2 linked regions of the Homo sapiens genome follow. The protein of the gene in region 2 interacts with the protein of the main gene of each other region in a biochemical or structural test. Each region holds a gene or a part of one and is shown on either strand. Other genes may lie near its edges.

Region 1 (10,770 bases), on a different chromosome or scaffold from region 2:
GATCCCTTCTCCATCTAACTCTTACTCTGCTTTAGGTGTTAAGTGTTGCTTTCAGGAAAGTTCTCTGACCTTCTCTGAATAACCCCACTCCCACAAACCGAAATGGAAATGTGTGCTCATTTATTTATTTATTTATTTATGAGAGGAAGTCTCACTCCGTGACCAGGCTGGAGTACAGTGGTGCGATCTCGGCTCACTGCAACCTCTACCTCCCAGGTTCAAGTGAGTCTCCTGCCTCACCCTCCCTGGTAGCTAGGATTACAGGTGCGTGCCACTATGCCTGATTAATTTTTGTATTTTTAGTAGAGACAGGGTTTCACCATGTTGATACTTCTACAAAATCTAATGTACACTTAGTAGCAGCACTTTGTACTTTGGATAATGCATCCTTTTTTGCTAGTTTGCCAGTCAAGTCCTGGGCTAAGTCTCACTTTTGAAGTCTAAATGCCTAATACAGTAGGTATTAAACTTGGGAGTGGGGTAGAGATGAGAAGGGGGAGTTTTAGGGAGATATATAAAGGGAATTTCTCAGTCAATAATCTAGATCAAGTGTCTGAAAACTAAGGACCTCGTGGTTATAACTGCCCCACCACCTGTTTTTGTAAATAAAAGTTTTATTGAAACACAGCCACATCAATTTCATTATGTATTATCTATAGCTGTTTTCATACTACAAGGACAGAGTAGTTGAGATAGAGACATTATGACTGGGAAAATATAAAATATTTATTATGTTTTTTACACAAAAAGTTTGACAACTCTTGTCCTAGATAATTTGGCTGCCCCAGAAATCTGCACTGTATTTATTTAAATAATAAAATGTTTATTGAACTTCAATATCTACACAAGTTTTCTCTGTACCATTCTCTAGGAGATCAAAAGGTAAAAATAATGTGATCTTTACACACACACACACACACACACACACACACACCCTTACAGTCTAGTGGAAATAATGGCTATGTTTGAAAGCAATTTCAACCAAAGGTAATGATTAAAGGATCATTAAAAGGGTGACTGCCTTATGTGGCCTGACTGTGATTAATATAAGATTAGTCAGCCTGACAGCCCTGACTGGGAAACCAGTTTGTGTTTTGCCTTGAAAGCCCCACTCCAGGTGCACTGTACTATTCTGTATTAATCAGCCCCATATGGTTGTCAGGAGGGATGAGAGTGGGTTGGATGAAAGGCTGCTTTCACAGTCCCATGTCAGGTGCAATGTGTCCAAACACCAGGTGTTTACTGGTGGAATATTTAGAAACATTCAAATCACACCTTAATTTTCTTCACTCTTCACCCTGATGTTCTTCCCTCACCAAGCCTATCTCTGCCATATTTTCTGTTCTTTATGATGACACACATGTATCTCCAGTTACTCAGAACCAAAATCTAGTCACGAATGGTTCTTTTTTCCATCCTGATATTGGCCCCATGCACTGAATTTTGAATTCCTATAAATTCCGCCTCCATGGTGACTCTTGAATCATTCTTCTCTTTCTATTTAAGAAAGTCCTTTAACTCCCTCGTACCTGGCCCACTCGTATTCTTTCTCCATTCCTTCCAATATTTTTTTTTTTTTTTTTTGAGGCAGAATCTCGCTCTGTCGCCCAGGCTAGAGTGCAGTGGCACGATTTCGGTTCACTGCAAGCTCCGCCTCCCGGGTTCACGCCATTATCCTGCCTTAGCCTCCCGAGTAGCTGGGATTACAGGCACCTGCCACCGTGCCTGGCTAATTTTTTGTATTTTTAGTAGAGTCGGGGTTTCACTGTGTTAGCCAGGTCTTGATCTCCTGACCTCGTGATCTGCCTGCCTCGGCCTCCCAAAGTGCTGGGATTACAGGCATGAGCCACCGCGCCTGGCCCATCCCTTCCAATATTTTTAAATATATTTCTTCAAGTTTAATATTTATGTGACATAATGATTATATCATTTTCTTGCTCATAGCCCTTCAATGGTTCCCACCACAATATAAAGAAAAATTAAATTAAATTTAAAAAATAAAATAATCTGTTTGGCCATTCACAAACTCGCTGATACTATTATGCCAAATATTTTACATTTCTTCCTCTTTCTCCTTTACCTACAATATTCTTTTTCCCAACTTTTTATATTCTAATCTTCCCTCTCATTTAGATTCTAGTATAGACGCTGTTTTGTAAAACCCACAGAGGTTGCTTCTCCTTGTCACCTAACATACCACTCTATCTCAGTCTTGAGCTTCAGGCCCAATATCTTACTGAATACCTCTACTTTATGTATTTAACTGGCATCTGAAACTTAGCAAGGCTAGAGAAGAATCACTAATTTTCCACACATTCTTCCCAACATCTTCTGTTTGACAAATATCTTCAGAATCATCCCTGTTAAAACCCTCAGAATCATCCCTCATTTTTCATCTTCACTCACTCAGTACAAATTTAAGTTCTCTTTCTAAACTGTATCAATTTTGTCACCTACATTCCTTCTCTACTATCATTACACTAGTCATCATATTTTGCCTATACTACTGTAATGTCACCGCAACTAGAGTCCCTGCTTTCACTCCTCGTCCTAGTACAATTACCTCTCTACATCCTAGGCAAGTTGACCTTTTGAAAAATGTAAATAAGATTCTATAATTCCCCTGGTTAACACCCTTCAATGGATTTCCCTTGCATTTAAAGTACAATCAACATCCCTTATAATCCACAAATATCTAAATAATCATACTCCATCTAGGTCCTCAACTACATTCCCTACTCGTAAGCCCCTTACTAACTGGTTTTCCTTCATGTTTTCCACAGCTCCAAACCATATTCTGTCTCAGTTACTTTATACCTTCTGTTCAACCTGGCTAAAACAGTCTTCTACCACAAGCCTGACATGCCTGATTTCTTTGGTTCATTACAGTCTTAACTAACAAGCCAACTCTTCCCAGACCACTCTCCACTACATGAATCTAGTTTTTCCTGATAACAGTAATTACTATCTCAAATGTCTAATTCACATATTGTTTTTGCATTGTCTGTCCATCTACCACTGCATTATACATTCGATCAGAGGAAAAACCTTGATTATCTTTCTCATTACTTTATCCTTAGCATCTAGAAAAATATATGGCACATACTACAAGGTAAATAAATATTTATTATTCAACATATGGATTATATTATGACACTTTAAAATGCTTGTTTTGTATTTCAATTGTTTACATATGGCTTGTGTGTCTTGTTAATCAGCAAGCTCCTTAAAAACCTAATCCATACCTGATTTATCATTAATACTTCACAATATAACTCGATATAAATATATATGTGTGTATGTGTGTGTGTATTTAAGTAGATCACAAGTCTGACAGAGTGAGATTTGTGATCTACTTAGAACATCATGTATATTTTTTTCTGAGATGGTAAAATAGGTTTTCTAGTATCTAATAGCACAACAGTGTGGTTGTAGGCAGTAATAATTTAATTGTACATATTAAAATAACTAAAAGAGTGTAATCAGATTGTAACACAAGGATAAATATTTGAGGTGGTAGATACCTCATTTACCCTGATGTGATTATTATGCATTGTATGCTTGTATCAAAATATCTCATGTATCACATAAATATATATATACACTTACTATGTACCCACAAAAATGAAAAATAAAATATTATGAGCATATTCTGTAAAACAATACATTCCACAGTCAACCATTTTACTTAATCTTCTAAATTGTGATTACAGCAAGTTCTCCTAATTAAAAGTAGAACCACAAAAATTGCTTAACATTGTTAAAACAGTAACTTAGTCTATGTCTTATGGCTATTAATTATAGTTCTAGGAAGAAATTCCTCAACTTTCACTGCTGGAAGAACAGGCAGTCAAGGAACAAAGTTGACTACTTTGTGGTCTACCTCTGTAATGTGCGTAGTTTCCTGCACTATTAACAAAGATGAAACCTCAAAATTCTACTATGGCCTTTTAAGTGTTTTTACTAATCATGTATAATTCTTCTCCATATGAGAAGGTAGTTATTACATGTCTACCCCATAAAAAGGTCCATGGTTTATCAATAGAATCTCTCTTATCTTCCAGAAAAACACAAGATCTTATGTACAGAGCTGAAATAGATATCCTTTTAGGCTTTACTGTGGAAGACTGTGTTTTCCCAAAACAAACGCTCTTCTACTGAATGCTAAATTACCACACTTAACCATAATTTCAGGGATTCCAGTGGGACTGAAAAGGATCAGAGTAAATAAGGAGCATTAAGAGTAACTAAAGGTATATGAGGTGGCTACAAAATGTCCCAACCATTGGTTGAGAACAATAAACATGCACCAGAGGGCATATCAATAGGCCTCTCACACAAAGCTTCTAGCAGTCATACGCCATAATTAATGAGCCTGAAAATTTGCTGAAGTTGGACCACTATCTGCATCAATGGAAATAAAATTTAAAAGACTCATAAAATGGTAGAGTTACTCAATTTCAAGATCTGATACACGGACCAATTTAATGTGATTATTAGAATAAACAGAAGTCAACTGCCATTGACTTTCAACCGACAATGTTATATAAATACACAAAATTATTTTAAATACTTCCATTGTAATTGTAAAATATTGTTTTCCACCAACTCAACTAAGATTATGGATTGCCAAACTGACCATATTACTGCCCGTTTCTTGGATTCTTTTCTTTTGATTATCATATGTGAGTCAGTCTTAGCCCTGTATGATTCAGCCCCCTCCTACATATTTTTCTAAATCTTATTGCATTCCCTTCTCTTGTTCAAGCCTGTTGCCTGTGGGAGTTTAATAAATGCTAGCTAATTATGATGATGCTCATTTTATTTTCCTTTACCTCCATTTACTCCTCTCTTAAATATTTCTACATAGAGTTAATCAACATTTATTGAGCACCTACTCTACAGAGGAATAGCCTTCATCAACTCCAAGAGATTGTACTCTAATTTTCTTAATTGTATTGCAAAAATTATGATTTTGTCTACCCTGTCAAAGATAGTTTTCCATGGAAGAGTGATTTTAAAAAAGTTCTTGCATGAACTATTTTACTATAATAATGTTTTCTCAATTAGGAGTTTAATCTCTTAGGAATGGGGTTTTGTCTTTGCATGTCTGGTACAGTACTAAACACAGTTTACCCATCCTAAAGAAACAAAATTAAAAGGTAGCCACTCAGAACATTCCTATAACTGTGTTGCTAAACTATCTCAAATGAGTAGGAGATATGCTCCACATTCAACAGTGAGGTCTGTGGAATCCATTCAGTCTCACCCACCCAACTTCACTCATATGCATACCTGGCTGTGTTCTAGGGGGATGAGGGGAGGTAAGAGCATCCATAGAGAAGAACAAATGACCATGATTCTTGATTTGTTTTTCTACCAAAAGTCTGGTAAAGTTGTATGTCATCTATTTATTAGACATGGCCCTTTACCACTTGAAAGCCAGGAGCTGGGCCTAGGAGCAAGGAAGATGAGAGGTCAACCTTGCATTTATGGATTCATTCTTTAAGTTACCCATGTATCCACTTAACATAAATGCACTACTGATCAGCTGTATTTTAAGAGTATATGTTGAATTTCTTTATTCAATCAACAAATATTTTTTGAGCACTTACTCTCTGGCTATCTAGGAAGGAAAAATACAAGCAAGGTCCCTGCTCTGATTGGACCTATACTCAATGATTTTTTTAACAGAATGTTTAAATCACTTCATTTATAAAAGCAGGGTGCATTCTAGTCTGAAGATATAAACCTCTGAGTATAATTTTCCTTGTTTGTCAGCAGATTTAATTTGCATTGCTCATTCTTATACTTGAAATATCTTGTTTATTACTGCCAGTGCTAAACATCTTCCCAAGGCTCTACTCCACTTGCATAAATACTTTGTACTTGTATGATCATTTATATTAGTAATCACTTTCAATTTTATCCAACAAATACACAAACTTTCTCTAGAAGGTGTAGTACTACAACAGACTCTACAAGAATGGAATCACAATATATTAAAAATAGTAAAGAATTAGCACTTAAGAAATCAATGTTGTGTTTTGCCAATGTTGTGTTTGGATGTCAAGAAATTAATTAAGCAACCATACATTAAAGTCATTAGAATGCAGAAGTAAGCTGAACTTTTTCCTCTGACATATGCATGGTGCAGATATCATGAGGTTTCATTTTAGAAAGCTGATATGTAAGAGGCAAAGAGATTCCTTGTCAAGGACTGGTATTCATATACACCTGCAAGAGGTAAACACATACCCTTACTTCAACCTTATTTCATTTTCAGAACTACTATCAAAAGAATAGAGCCACATATTTGTGAATTATTTAGAGTTATCATCAGATCTCCTGGAACTACATGCCAATAACATAACATCAAAACTTCCTGAGTTATACAGCCAACGAACACATTATCTAAATTAAATTGTTAGACAGCTTCAAACTTTTTAAAACTTTTCTCCAAAAAATTAATTTAAGTACTTCTCGCCTTGACATGTGTCAGGCACTGACACTGTAGATAATACATTTTATGTAGTACAAAGCTGGCTTAGATTTTCTTGAAAAACAATTCAGGTTTAACCTAGAGCTCAATTTTACCCTTGGCACAGCTCTCAGGATATTTTTGTCAGGGATAAAGCATTCCAGTCATTGTTCCTAATGAGCTATCCACTGCCAACTAATAACTACTTAAGTTACCAGGTATAATCAGGGGAAATCACTTTCAGGAACTCCTGAGAATTTTGAAGATTTACATACTCAAATATCTGGCACTTCTCCATACAATTTTGGATACATTTTAAATCTTGATTGGAAGGATAAACAAAATAGTGCATAATAATTTCCCACTCTGCAGAATTCACAAATTACCATACTTCTAATAACAGAGAGAAGACATCCTTCTTGTCAGCAACTTTTACCCTAACCACAAAATTTAATTCTTTCTTCCGATGAAGCAATCATTGAATGATTTACTTCTAGTGACAATATAATGTACTTGGCCTTAAGAACTGTTGTCTAAATATGTTCTAATTGATGCAAAAGCAACCTGGAATGCAAATTTTATGTATCAATTATAAAACAATAAAGCTATAATATTTTATGCTAATAAATTCAGGACAAGCAAATTTTTTGGAGTCTTTTAATTTTAGGTTGATATTACAAGCATGTCTGCTACAGCCTGTGGTGGATATTCATATATCAGTACGTTTTGTGAAAGCCGAAGGGAACCCTTGAGATGACTTAAGGGAAAATGAGAGAAAACTAAATAGCACTTCAAAATAATTTTAAGTGCCCTTTAAACTGGATTCAATATTTTTATATTCATTATTTTTTATCTTACAAATCACCTATGCAAACTATTCTAATTTCCTATTTTGAAAAATACATTGGACACTATTTCATTATGGTAATGTTATGCTTCTAGCAAGGTTTGGTGAAAGTACCAACCAATTCTCTGTCTCCAAATCTTATTAATTAAAACACTAAGAAATCATACCTTACAACCAAGTGTTCCAAAAAATGGTTTATAATAACATTCTAGTTATCTGAACTTTTACAAAATTTCTGATTGCTATTTAGACACATTAACATTAAAACAATCCTTACCTTGAAAACCTAATCTAATATAAAGACAATCACATTCACAAATGGAATCTATGTGAATGGTAAATAGGTTCATAATCTAAATCCAATTGTTGAATGTCCACATGAATCTCAAATGGACTGGTGTTTCATTATTTACTACTTTAGCTTTTATGTGAGGAACACTGGTTCCCTAGCGACTTTTAGAAAACACTTTCAGAACTTGAACAGCTTACTGAAAAAATATCTAGACTCTCAAACATTTGTATTCTTCATGTTGAACAAAAAGTCTGATGAAGAAGATATGCATCAAGAATCTTTGGAATTCAGTCATAGAATATTCTGTTTTTCTGGAATCAAAATAAATAATTCATCTCCTAAAAGCAACAGATTCTCTTAAAACCGAAGTCTTCCAATTAAACATTACTACAATTAGAAAAATTCTAAAGATTAACTCTCATTGTAAACAGAAAGAATTTAGGTTGGTTCCATGTCTTTCTATGAAAGTTTGAAATGAAAAGCCTGATTATATTTGGGCATACAAACTTTTTAGGCTTTATATTTAGGCATCTATTATTCTCAAATTTCCTGAATACTATTTCCCAAATTGTTGAACTAAATAATCTTTAAATTTAGAAAAAAAATTATGTAGTAGGATAAGATTAGGTTGGTTTCAAAATCCATATAATTATGTGTCCATCTCTTTAGGTTTTGAATTATATTAAATATCAACTAACCCTTTAAAAAGTATTCACTTTTATATAATACCAGCTGATGTCACATGATGAATAGAGAATAAAATAATTAGTATATTTATGGTTTGAGTAAAAATTATAATTCAGTTTACAAAACTGAATAAACAATTGTATTGTAGGTCTACCACATGGCAGGCACTGTCCTGGACATGAAAACACAATGGTGTCTAGACAGATATGACCCCACCTTCTCCAAGCTTTATGGTTTGTATTTTCTAAAATTTTGTATTGCCTCATACTTTGAAGTTTTAATTGCATCCTGTCTGTCTCTAAAACTCTCAACTATCCATTTATTATAAGCACATTTATAGTACTATCTCATGAGGTTCAATTTTGGGTAATTAAATATCACTCCAAGAGTGACCAAAAATGAAAAGAGAGGCAGAGAATAGCATGCAGAAAAATTCTGTAAGCAGACTTTCTCAAAATTTTATGATCTTTAATCCCCAATGTTCCTTCTAACAGTTCATATATTTTCCTGCTGATAAAGATGCAATTATGCTCAAGTAGTTTTTTGTTATTGTTGTCTGTTATATATCATAAGGCATATAAATATATTTGTTATCCAAATTCTTACTTTACATTGTACAATAAATTTTATATGTCTGTATTTGAAGAATATAGTGACTCTTATCAGATAACTGTCTTATCATAAATCACATTTTCCAAGAAAGGATAAATCACTCATCATTTAAGAAAAGATATTTTGTTTCTGTGCTTTAGAATGTGGTTATTCAAATCATTATGGAAACTGTAAACAAAATGAGTAAACTTAATCTTGCAAATAATTTTCACCTGTGGTCTCACCTCTGCTAAGGTGAAAAAACAAAACAAAAGACCCTGTATATAGCATTAGTAAATACCAAAACAAATATTAATTCTATTTCAATACACTCTGTGATCTTTTCACTGCTTAACTTGAAATACCCATATTTTTGTGTCCTAGACCACTGCTGTGGTTTAAATCTTTCTTAAGGATTGAAAAATACAAATCTGTAAAGGGAAATACTTTCATTAGAGAAGCTTACCCATATCCTTACTATTGCCACCTTTTCCAAAACACTTGCGTTTATAACAAAGCATCATCTTCAGGAGCCATTCCATTTTCTGAGAAACTTGAAATTCAACACTATTAAACTCTCTTTTTTATTTTTATTTTCACCTTTTCATAATTTTGCATAGAAAACTTTTAAAAAATGTTTGCATACTCACCTCCTCGAAAGAAAGCTAGTTTTATAGGTAGAGTAGATAGTAGAGTGGCAGAACTGATGTAATGAAATTGAAGAATGCACTTCCCTGAGGGAAACTCAGGGGCGCATGCAAAGTTTTATTGCCCTGTATTTGGCATACCAATGACAGAAATCTCAAATTGCTAAAGCAAAACAAAAAAACCTCAAACAAACAAACAGAAAGCCCTGACTACAGGGATAGTATGCCAGAAACACAACTTGATTTATGAAACCATAAAGTTTTCCAGAGTATTTTTATACATTTGATGACATTTAAACAAATGCCAAAATAATACTACAAAAATACCACTACAAAAATATCATTTAAAAAACAGAGTATTTTTATTTTTGGCTTGGGGGAGGCTTTTCTGGAATATTCTAGAATATTTTAAAATGCATTGTCACCATCAAAACACAAATTTTAAATACTCAAACCACTTTATTTTAATATAGTTTCATTATCTTTAATTACCATAAATAGCATATTTGTGAAATATTGTCAAATTATTAGAAAATAAAGCTTACTTAGAAACTTTTACAGTATTTATTAAGGCCATTTACTTTCTAAAGGAAATTTTGTCACCTAAATCATGAATACATTTGGAATGAGTTAAAAACAGGATTTTCAAAGTAGACATGTGTGCGCAAAATAAAGTATGGAGATTTACTTTAAAGTTGTATTACTCTATATTGTCATGTAGACACTTTAAAATAATTATATCATTTCCTACCATGTAATTGTATCCTTTTGAATCTGCACTGAGCAAATTATGACAAGTACAAACAGGCATGATTGAGAGAAAAGTGGTGGACAATCCCCTATGCCAAAATAAATATATTTTTAAAAAAATATAGCCCATGTCTAAATTTATTCTCAAGTTTTTGGCATGAAAACGTAACATTTGATGTGTAAATAAAATATTTAATAAGACTAAGACAGACATACTGTCCCTAGAAAAATACGTGTGTGTATGTGTGTTTTGAGTAACTTATTTATACTATGGGCATTTCAAGCTTGAAATATCAAATCAAATCAAAGTAAAACAGTAATAATAAGGATTAGAGAGGATAGCTGCTTGAATCCTTCTTTAGTGCTTAAAACTACCTAAAATTCTCAAAGATTTTTTAAAGAATCAATTCAAACAAAGTTTCTCTCCAGAGTGTTTCCACTTTGGGAACATTCCAGGTTTCAGGAATGCCTCACT
Region 2 (11,486 bases):
TCCCAACATAGGGGTATCATACATATCTCTGAAATCCACTCATCTCCCACCTGCTTGAATACCTTGCTTTTAGCCACACTTAATTTCTTCCTATGACCACGGTAAGCTTCCAAATGGTTATCTTTCTTCCACCACTGCCTCCTCCCACTCATTCTCTATACAGTAGCTAGACTGCATCTTGTAACACAAATCTCATCTTGTTTCAGTCTTCAATGTCACCCACTGTCCTTAGAATTAGGCCACCCCTCCTTAGCAAGTTCCACAAAGCCAGTGCTTCCCTTGCTTGTCCGTTTAAGGTTTATGCCTTTAGCCACATTAAACTCCTCTCAGTTTCTTACATGTAGAGGTCATAAAGTGGTGGCCCTAGGTTGAATTCCAACTACAGATTTGTCTGGTTTGGCCCACAGAATAGTTTTTAAAACATTTGGGTTAGTTCATATTTGGGAGATTTCATATTTATAAAATATGAATTTTAAGCTCCTCTTTAGAAATCAAGGCATCTGGCAACACTTGGCCTGCATCCCAACCTGACAATACTTGGCTGAAATGAGTATCTACTTTTCCCTTTAGACAGCTTGGATTCTCCAGATTGCCACGCCTCTCCCTCCTGCTCTTACCTATGTATTGTTTAACATTTTCTGCCTGACTTCCATTCTAAGGCATCATGCTCCCTTTGGTCTCTTTCAATCTTCCCACCTCTTCAGCTGCTAACTACCACTCATGCTTCAGGTCTTCATGTATTCATGCTGCTAGGAAGTTTTCCTTCACCACCACCAACCCAATTAGGATGAGATGATGCACTGTGTGACATTCACCTACCCAGGACCCTGCTATCCTATCTTCTGAGGTTCTCTTCACTACCCTTATCATGGCATGAATCATATGGCATTATAATTTTTTAAAAATTTTCTTTATAAATTTATAATTCTCTGTTTACAGATCTGCATCCCTCTCTAGACCTTTCAGTCATAAGAAAGTGACTATAACTGTCTTGTATACCATTGTATGTCAGTGCCTAGGAAAAAGCCAAACGTTTAGTGTGGGCTGAATAAACACTTGTTGCATAAATGAATGAAAAAAGTTAGCTGAGGAATGGCTATTTCAAAATATTGGGGAAGAGTGTATTTATATTTTTATATATGTATTCATTTTTAAAATGTGGACCACTGAAATTCCATTCCTTCCCCCCTCCCCCTACCCTGGAGAAACTAAAATAACTACTTGAGTCATAGAGCAATAGCTGTATACTGGCAATGTGCTAAGAACCACACATGGATTAGCTCATTTAATGCTGACAACAGTCCTTTCAGGTTAGTATTTCATTATTCCCATTTTGGAGAGGTAAACATTCAACCCCAGATAAAATGAAGGCCTTATTCTCCACAACACAGTAAATTGTAGGGATACATGATGACTGAAATTTCTGCCAGGATACCTGAGAGCACATGACACCAACAGCAGCTTTATTCACAGCCCATCTTTTGAGCTATTTGTATGTGGTTTTAATAATTAGCTTTCGCATTCAAATGGTAAAGAAAGTTCTTATACACACAAGAAGCATTTATGGCTATTATACCAGATGACACGGCTTCCAGGGCAGTAAGAAGGATCTTTAATCTCATTTCACAAATAGAAAAACAAAGGTATGGAACAATAAAGCCAAGTGTAAAGTTAACATTATGTCCCTCAGGCTGCCCCTCAGCCTGCCATGCCTTAATGTGAGAGTCCAATCAAAGCCTCAAAGCCCAGTATGTAAAGCCTAATAAATTCTGCACATAGCAGATAGATAAATTCTTCCTAGGAGGAGGAAAAGAATCAGAGATGTCACTGAGTCACACAAAATACAACCTAGACAGAAAGTCAAGATCCCTGGTCAATCTTTTCCAGGTGGAATTCTTGCTCATTCTTTGCCCCAAGAAAAAAAAAAAAAAAAAAAAAAAAAAAAAAAAAAACAAAATTCTAAGTCTTTTTTTTTTTTTTTTTTGAGACAGGGCCTCTCTCTGTGGCCCAAGTTGGAGTGTGGTGGCATGATCACAGCTCACTATAGCCTCAACCTCCCAGTTTCAAGAGATCCTCCCTCCTCAGCCTCTTGAGTAGCTGGGACTACCGGCGTGCACCACCACACCTGGCTTTTTTTTTCTTTTAATATTTTTTGTAGAGAGAAGGTCTCACTATGTTGCTGGTTTCAAACTCCTGAACTCAAGCAATACTCCCGCCTCAGCCTCTCAAAGTGTTGGGATTACAGGCATGAGCCACCACACTCAGTCTCACCAAGTCTCGTAACTTTTAAAGTCAAATTTCCAGAGTCACTTCAGGACCCACCAGGCCTTAAGGTCCAGCTTATTAAAAATCTTACATTAAATCTCTGTATATTTTTTCTAGGCATTATAATTTCCTTCCTCAAGGAGTTGAGAAAAAAACTGTATGTGGGAACCACAACATACAGTTGAAGGAAGTTAGAATTAAAATTTCTATAGCTTTTAACATTTGATTAGCACATCATACATGTGTAGAATGTTTTCCTAAGCTTTCATTCTAAAAACACAGAATTCATTTTATTTCCAAGTGCACCTTGATGAAGTAGGAGCACATGGCATTTTATTTTAGAAAGCAATGTCTTAACAAACTTGTTATTTCTTCCAATTATGCAAACTCACCAAATGATTTTTTATCTATTTATTTATTTAGTTTTATCTTTTTTTGAGAGAGTCTCACTCTGTCACCAGGGCTGGAGTGTGTGGAGTGATCTCAGCTCACTGAAACCTCCACCTCCCAGGTTCAAGCGATTCTCCTGCCTCAGTCTCCCAAGTAGCTGGGATTACAGGTGCCTGCCACTATGCCCAAGTAATTTTTTGTATTTTTAGTAGAGATGGGATTTCACCATGTCGGCCAGGCTGGTACGGAACTTCTGACCTTGTGATTTGCCCGCCTCGGCCTCCCAAAGTGCTGGGATTACAGGCGTGAGCCACCGCAGCCGGCCAAATGATGATCTTAAAGGGCCTTTGATAATGCATTCTTGACCTCATTCTACTTGCCATGTATAGTCATTAGAAGACTGTTCATATAAAAATATGAAATAAAACTACATAGTCTTTAAGTTACCTTGGAAGGCCCTTCAGGACAAGGAACATACTCTATATCTTTATATCTTTAAAGCATATAGCAGAGTGCATCGCGGAATGAAAATGCCTATTAAGTCAGGAATGCAGGAACGACAGGGCTTACCATTTAATATCAATTCTAAAGCTGATTATTTATTTTTGAGACAGGGTCTTGCTCTGTCACCGAGGCTGGAGTGCAGTGGTATAAACACAGTTCACTGCAGCCCTGACTTCCTGTAAAGCTGATTTTTTAGGCCATTTACTTGCTTTATAAAGTAACTAGAATGGCATGAACTATGCTTTTTTGTGCCTGTGATTATAAACTGAAAATTTACAAACAATATGTCACATGTTATTTGAGCTAAATGTCTGATTTTACTAAAATGAAAGTATCCTTCCTGGATTATTAGAATTAGCAGTAAATTTAAGTTTGCACCTAGAAGAGAAAAGCGATTGTAAAGAATGTAAAACATCTGAAGCAAACAAAGTCCAATAAGATCTTCCTTCTACTTGAATTTCTATGACCACAAAGGCACAGGATGTAAGGTCCATAGCTTTGTACACAGGGATTGGTGGGGACGACACGATTTCAACTCTGAACCCCAATGACCAGCTCCAGGAACACATGCCTTTTAGCCCCGCAAAGCTACTGACCAAATCACCCAGAGAGATAATCACATCTCAGCCAAAGGACCTGAACTCAGACGATCAGAACACAGGACCTGCCATCAGGCAGCTGCACGAGACAAGAGACCGTGCTCAAAATCACGTAATACCCTAAGTCATCCCAAGGGAGCCCCACAACTACCCTCAGCGGCAGGCAGAGCTGACGCATATTTTGCAGATGACAACATACAGGTTCCGATGGGGCGGGTCCCAAGGCCACAGAGCTGGGAAGGTGACTGAACCTAGACTTAACTAGTATCCCAAGTGGTGGATACTTCCCATTCTGCCTTGGAGATCGCCCTTCGCCCGCGTATTACATTCGGAGGCTGGCAAAACGGCAGGAAGAGAGCAAAGCTGGGCAAGGACGGGAAAGAAAGAGGGGAAGGAATTTCCACTGCTTCCCGGCACTCGCCCCCACTCCACACCCCAGGTTGCTACTCCGCGGCGGCCTCTACTTCCCCAAACTAGACTGAAGGGCGGGCGGAGAACCGAGGAGGCTTTCTAGGCGTCACGGAGAGTTCTCCAAGTTGGGGGCAGAAAAGGCGAATGAACAAATTGTACCCCCTAGGGAGAGGGCACAAGGAGAAGTGCGGAGGTGAGAAGGACCGGAGGGGAGGACGACCCCTCACAAACTGGCCAGGGACTTAATAATGGTGATGAAGGGTCGTGAGAGAGGTTTGGGAAATGCGAGAATAGCTCAGTCCCCAAAATCCTCCCTGGCCGCATCGCTGGATCCCCGCCCCATCCCCCCACCCCCGACCCGGGCAGCCCGGGAGAAAAAGCAACAACCTCCTGGGGCACCAGGAATTGGTGGCAGCAGGATCCCGAGCCCAGGCCCCCTTCCGCGCCCCCACCCTCACCCTTGCCCTGACCGCCTCGCAGTGGCGGCAGCAGCGGCAACAACACCAACCTGCGCGACCACGGGCTCTGTCCGGGACGGAAGCCGGAGCCTGCGGGCGGCGGAGCGGCGGGCGGAGTTAGTTGGAGGCTCCGGCTCCCTGGGCGGGGACAGGCTGAGCACGCGGAGGCAGCGGCGGTGGCGGGGGCTCCCTCTCCTCGGCGTGCGCCGGGCCCAGCCGGGTCCGCCGCTCGCCCTCGACTCCTGGGGCAGGTCTCAGTCCCTCCCCGGGGGCGGCTCCCGGGCCAGCCCCGCGCTCGCCTCCTCCACGCCGGCGGCCTCTGCTCCGCCCTGCCTCTTTGGGCGCAGGGGGCGCGGAGCTTGGGAAGTGGAGCCCTGGCGAGTCCCCAGCGATTGCGCGCAGCTTCCCGGGGTTTCCCTGCGGGGGTCGCGTGTGCTGGGTGTCTGAACTCACGCGCGGGCCAGAGGTAGCCAAGAGCTGGAACTCTTGCCCAAGTGCCCCGGGGAAGGGAGTGAAGGCCCGGCCTGAAAGTCTCTGACCCTCCCGAGTCTCGTGTCCCTAGAAGCAGCCTTGCGAGGTGGCCACGCCAGCTGCCCTGAGAGAAGCAGAGGAAAATGTCCGACTCTCCCTCCGCCCAGCTTCGCGCCAGAAGAACGTTTCCCGAGAGAAGGAAGGACCCATTGACCCCCAGCCCTTGCTCCAGCCTGGAGACCTGGCTGAGTGCATGGAACTGGAAGGATGGCAGAGTACCGGGGCTGAAAGCCTGGGAAATGTGCTATTTCTATTCACACCACCCCCTTGCCCGGCCCCTGGATTCAGGCCACCTCGCTCAGGTCTGCGCAGTGCTTCCCAGTTCACACCTCCGACCCGAGGAGGGAGGTCGGTATCCCTTTCTTAGCCTGGCTTCCCGCCTCCATCTGCATCCCTTTCTGCTAAACCTTTTTAACCCGCAGAGTGCCCAGCGCGCACACACCGATCACTTCGCCCCTAAACTGCGGGCAGGGAACTCTGGAGCCACCCACATCCCCAGCCTCACCCCAAAGCAAGAGAAAGCAGGGAGCCGCGCGTGGGGTGGTGGGGGCGGGGCTGGAGAGTTCCAGTAGGAAGGTTTTATACCCAAGAGGCTTGATGATGTGCAGTACTGACCCCACACACAAATTGATATGCGTTTAATTGAAGGCAGGTATTTGCCACTGTCTCTCCCTGTCTGCAGGTAACCGCTTGAGTGCGTTCACCTCGCCTCTTCCATCCCCAGCGCCAGCCCAGCCCCCTCTCTTTCTCCCAGAGTCCCATCCTCCTCTCCCTCACCTCTCCCATCCCAGCTCCCTGCAGCGCGGGTCCCGAGCTGCTCCAGATCCCCAGCACCCAGCTCTGGTCTTTCCAGACAACTCCTCCCCTTCAGAATCTGGTGTGGTAGCAGGGAGGTTGTGAGAAGGGACACTGAGGAAGATAAAGAAGGAGAAGCCAGTGGACTGGGAAGAAGGTAGGAAAGTGCGAACCGAAGGGGTACACCGGAGAGGAGCTATGGGAAATGAGGCAAAGCCTTCAGGCTATAGGGGGATTCCCAGAAAGAAAATCATTTTCTCCATAGGGAAACTACCGATGCTCGCTGTAGACCAGTTGGAAAATCTGTTGTACACCCTCCCAACAGAATTCCTAGTGAGCAGTGGCCAGACTGGTCAGGGCCTAGAGCATGTGTCCAGGAACTCCATCCACTTCCCAACCCAAATTCCAAGGCAGGCGGATGACCCTCATTTTGGAAACTTGATTCTGAGAAGGTGCGAGAAGACACCGAGCTGAGTCTGTTTACGGATCCCGGGCTGTTCTTCATCTTTAGGCATCTCCTAAGTCACTTTATCTCTTCCTCCTGGTCTGGGTTGTTAAGGAAAGCAAGCACTTGAGACCCTCCCTCAAATACGTCTCTCCTCTGTGTGTGTGTGTGTGTGTGTGTCACAGAGAGAAAGTTTGTGGTGTGAGAGAGAGAAGAAAATGTGGAGGGGCAGGAGTTCTAGGCTATGGTGTTTTGTTTCTCTTTGTTTTCTTTCTTCAATTCAGTACATTTTTGTGCCAAGATGATTTTCTTGTTCAGTGGTGACTATATTTTTGCCTTAAATGTGGGAGAGTAGTTGGGACAACACTTCTAAATGTAACCTGACGGTAACCTCTCACACCCTCAAGGTCCTGGTGTGTCTGGAATTGGTGAGTTCTTGGTCTCACTGACTTCAAGAATGAAGCCGCGGACCCTCTCTGTGAGTGTTACAGTTCTTAAAGGCAGCATGTCTGGAGTTTGTTCCTTCTGATGTTTGGATGTGTTTGGAGTTTCTTCCTTCTGGTGGGTTCGTGGTCTCACTGGCTCAGGAGTGAAGCTGCAGACCTTCGTGGTGAGTGTTACAGCTCATAAAGGCAGTGTGGACCCAAAAAGTGAGCAGCAGCAAGATTTATTGCAAAGAGCAAAAGAGCAAAGCTTCTCCAGTGTAGAAAGGGACCCCAGCGAGTTGCTACTGGGGCAGCCTGCTTTTAGTCCCTTATCTGGCCCCACGCACATCCTGCTGATTGGTCCATTTTACAGAGAGCTGATTGGTCTGTTTTACAGAGAGCTGATTGGTCCGTTTTGACAGGGTGCTGATTGGTGCGTTTACAATCCCTGAGTTAGACACAAAAGTTCTCCAAGTCCCACTAGATTAGCTAGATACAGAGTGCTGATTAGTGTATTCACAATCTCTTAGCTAGACATAAAGGTTCTCCAAGTCCCCACCAGATCAGCTAGATACAGAGTACTGATTGGTGGATTTACAAACCTTGAGCTAGACACAGGGTGCTGATTGATGCATTTACAAACCTTGAGCTAGACACAGAGTGCTGATTGGTGTATTCACAATCCCTTAGCTAGACATAAAGATTCTCCAGGTCCCCACCAGATTAGCTAGATACAGAGTGCTGATTGGTGCATCCACAAACCCTGAGCTAGACACAGAGTGCTGATGGAGCAGGGGGCAGCGCTAGTCTAGGAGGCTTGGGGAGGTTCGGTAGCGCAGGAGCCCACAGCCTTGGGGGAGGCTCAGGCATGGCGGGCTGCAGGTCCCGAGCCCTGCCCCGCAGGGAGGTAGCTAAGGCCCAGCGAGAAATCGAGTGCAGTGCCAGTGGGCCAGCACTGCTGGGGGACCAGGCGCACCCTCCGCAGCTGCTGGCCCGGGTGCTAAGCCCCTCACTGCCCTGGCGGGCGAGGCCGGCCGGCCACTCCGAGTGTGGGCCCGCCAAGCCCACGCCCACCCGGAACTCTAGCTGGCCTGCAAGCGCCCTGCTCAGCCCTGGTTCCCGCCCTCGCCTCTCCCTCCACACCTCCCTGCAAGCTGAGGGAGCCGGCTCCGACCTCCGCCATTGCAGGAAGGGGCTCCCACAGTGCAGCGGCGGGCTGAAGGGCTCCTCAAGCGCGGCCAGAGTGGGCGCCAAGGCCACGGAGGTGCCCAGAGCAAGCGAGGGCTGCCGGCATGCTGTCACCTCTCACTGGTTGGCACAGCCAATTTTAGCTGTGCTGTCAGACGCCCAGTAGTGCACCTCACCTCAGAGCCTCAGACTTACAGCCTCAAGGCATTCCATTCTGTGTGCAGGCCAGCTTGGGCAGTGGAGCCAACCACCTCCACTTAGGTGAGGAGAAGCCTCCCTTTTCACTCTCCTCAGGGCTCCACCCCACCTGAGGTTGTCTCTGCACTCTGTCATTACAAAACTAGTCCTTAGTGTCCCAGTTTTACTTTCAAAAATACTATATCCAATTTAATTTAAAAAATCTCTTTCTCCGCCCCCCGCTTGTTTCCTCTAATGCTCAAAAGGCTAGGCCATTGAAAGTTCAAGAGGGTAGAAATTTCTCTTTTTCTTCTCATCAAAAGAGAAATAGTCCTTGAAAGAACCTTATTAAACTTATATCCTTTCTGAATATGGTAATCCCTTGGTATTGATTATTTTAATTTTATATTAATGGTATGATCTTACTGCAAAAGGTGACCAGTCAGCTGATGAGGATAAAGGGTCTAGTTTCTTCCTGGAGAAACTCTGACAGCTAAAAGAATGGGAGGGTTTATTTACAGACAGGAGAATTGGTCTCCGTCAGTGTTGCAAAGTAGATGGAGATGGACATTCCTTTGTAAACGTCTCTCTTTTTTCAGTTTTATTTCATAGCAGCCTTGTCCAACTAATACTGCCAGTTCTCCAAGTCAGTTTGCCTCACACAAAAGTGTTAGGGACTTCAGATGCTACTTCCTACTAGTGTTTGCCTTGAAAAAGAGTGACATTTCAAGCAGAAGTGAGAGAGTAAAGGAGGATTCATGGAAAATATTTCCTGTACCCTTTAAGACTTTTCTCATAGTCATTTTATGTAAAGATGGGTCTGATGGACAGAACTTACTCTGAACAACTTGGCAACTGTTCAGGCCTACAGGCTTCTTTGAAAATTAAAAAAAAAACAAATGCACACTTTCTCATTTCCCAGCACTTCAAACATGATCTAAGAGTACAGAAGGTTACATTCAAGTAGCAGAATAAGCTTCAAAATGGTTATATCAAACAGTCAAATTTGCTTATGCATATTCAGAACGACAAGAGAAAATATTAATTTCAATTTAGAAGTCATCAAAAAGCACCTTGTGGGCAATATAATGAATAGCCCCATGTTAAAGTAATACATGTTTGTTCTTTAACAAATAAATTTTCCTCTGAAATATAGACATCTGTCATGGAGTCAATTATCTTGCACAGCATGTGCTGTAAAAGCACATAAAAGCAATAATATACTACATTGCTTATTTGAAATCGATCAGGAATAGGCAGCTCCATGCTGGCATGTCTTTAATTTCATGGTGTTAAGAAAAGACTATAGAAGTATGAAATAGCAAACCCTTTCCTACTGGAGTACTAATTCAATTACCTATCATGATATATATAGGAGGAAAAATTTTCCTCATTAGCTGGCAGAAACACTATGGGACTATTTTCTCGTCTTACTCTGCTAACCCCTGTAGCGAGAGTGTGAACATAAAGTTTCCTTTGAAAACAAAGGGATCAACACACTCTGATCAGCTCCAGGGGTGTGCAGAAGAACAAAGCTAGAAATGATATTCTAAGGACATAAATTATCATTTAAATGAGGTGAACATTTATGAAATTTATGCATCAAACAGATCTCAAGATTTGAAAAGTGGAATAAGAGGTAGTTAGACCAAGTTGAACCTCCTTGATGTAATGCAAATGTGAAATCTCTTTCTCTCTTTTCTCAGGCCAACTCACATTCTCCCCTCTATCACTGCATGATGAACACATAAATAAAACAACAAAATATTTTCCAGAAAGCTCTGCCAGGTTAAGTATACAGAGCCTTCTTGAATATCCCATATTACTTTCTCTTGTGACACTTTAAAATAGATTTGAAAAAAAAAATCTTAAGGGGAATATTTTAATAGCTTCCCGGAGAGTAGAATGTATTATCGTTACAATACAAAGGGTATCATTCATTTTTAATTCCTTGCTCCACAGGTGTTCCCTGCCCAGACTGTGGTTGACACTTAGAGGGCCTAATTATGATTCATATATCCCACATTCCCCAGAAATTGGCCCCTCTAACTTCACACAATGCTGTTATTCAGAGGAGAAAAATACGTTTCAGTACTACTGGCTAGACATAATGATTCTCAATCTTGTCTACATATTAGAATCACCTGGGAAGCTTTAACAATCCTGCCACCTCAGCCCTGCCTCGGACTGGCTTCAGACCCAATAAACAAAACTCTCTGGGGGTGGGGCCCGAGGATAGGTGTTTATTTAATTCCCCAGGTGGTTTTTATGTATAGTCAGGGCAACCATCTGTAGGGTATAAACACTTAGCAAGTAAAACTATTCTTTGTTAAAATACTATTAAATATGAACTACCTACCTATTAGATGCAGTTAAACTTTTTTTTTAATTAAAAAAGTTAATTTGGTTTCACAAGGTAAGTTCTCCATGCCAAGTTATGTTGTCTCTACCTACCTTAGGTTTCTGGCTGTGCTAGCAAGGCTGATTCACAAGGAAAATCCATGACTTTTCAAAAAAAGACACAGCAACATATCCATGACCTACCCTCATTTTGGTGGATCTGTGACTGGAATCAAAGCCATAGATCACTGCAGGAAAATAGACATGGGGGAAATTGAATCTTACAGGTCTTAAATTCCCACAAGTAATCCCCTTGAGCTATTAAGCCATTATCCAATTTCGCAGTTAAAAAACAGATACATGCTATAATTAATTCTTTCTATAAAGTCCAGGGTTTAGAAATAAAATAATTACAAGGACAACCAGGGTCATCAATTTTATGTAGATTCAGCACTAATGAAGAACCAAATATTTGATTCTGAAAAAGGAGTGTTAAAATGCTGCTGGCAGTTTCACACAAGTAGTTAATACACTCAGTATGCTTGTGGAATGAAAATAGCCTAACACAAAGAGAATACATGATAGTTTATATAAATAAGATAATATAAACCATAAAAACTTTGTCCATACATAGTTTAGTATGATGAGATAAGGTGGATTGAGGTGAAGTAGGAAGATACAAGAGGAAAATCTGTTGATAGAAAGTGGATATACTGGAGAAATTGAATAGGCTAATGTTATTTGACTGGACAGTTGAGATTACAAGGTCAAGTGAAGTCTAAGTAAATACTGCTTTTCTCTACTGCCTGATATGAAGAGATTACTAGCAGTCTAAGAACTGGTATGATGGTGATAGAAGCTAGAAAAATCATGGAATCACTACAATTTTCTGGAAATCAATGTCTATGACACTCAAAGCTCCAAAAGCTTTGATTTTTTAAATAAGAAATTTACTTAG

What was found.
Region 1: the proteins of PAM (region 2) and RASSF9 form a complex in vitro, tested with the Homo sapiens proteins (one study listed by BioGRID).

The regions. Positions count from the first base shown.
Region 1 is NC_000012.12:85,824,882-85,835,651, forward strand, and holds part of RASSF9 (ras association domain-containing protein 9), read right to left. Parts: intron 1-10,770. UniProt on the Homo sapiens protein: May play a role in regulating vesicuar trafficking in cells.
Region 2 is NC_000005.10:102,748,540-102,760,025, reverse strand, and holds the start of PAM (peptidyl-glycine alpha-amidating monooxygenase isoform e preproprotein), read right to left. Parts: upstream 4,722-11,486; 5' UTR 4,678-4,721; intron 1-4,677. UniProt on the Homo sapiens protein: Bifunctional enzyme that catalyzes amidation of the C-terminus of proteins. Alpha-amidation is present at the C-terminus of many endocrine hormones and neuropeptides and is required for their activity.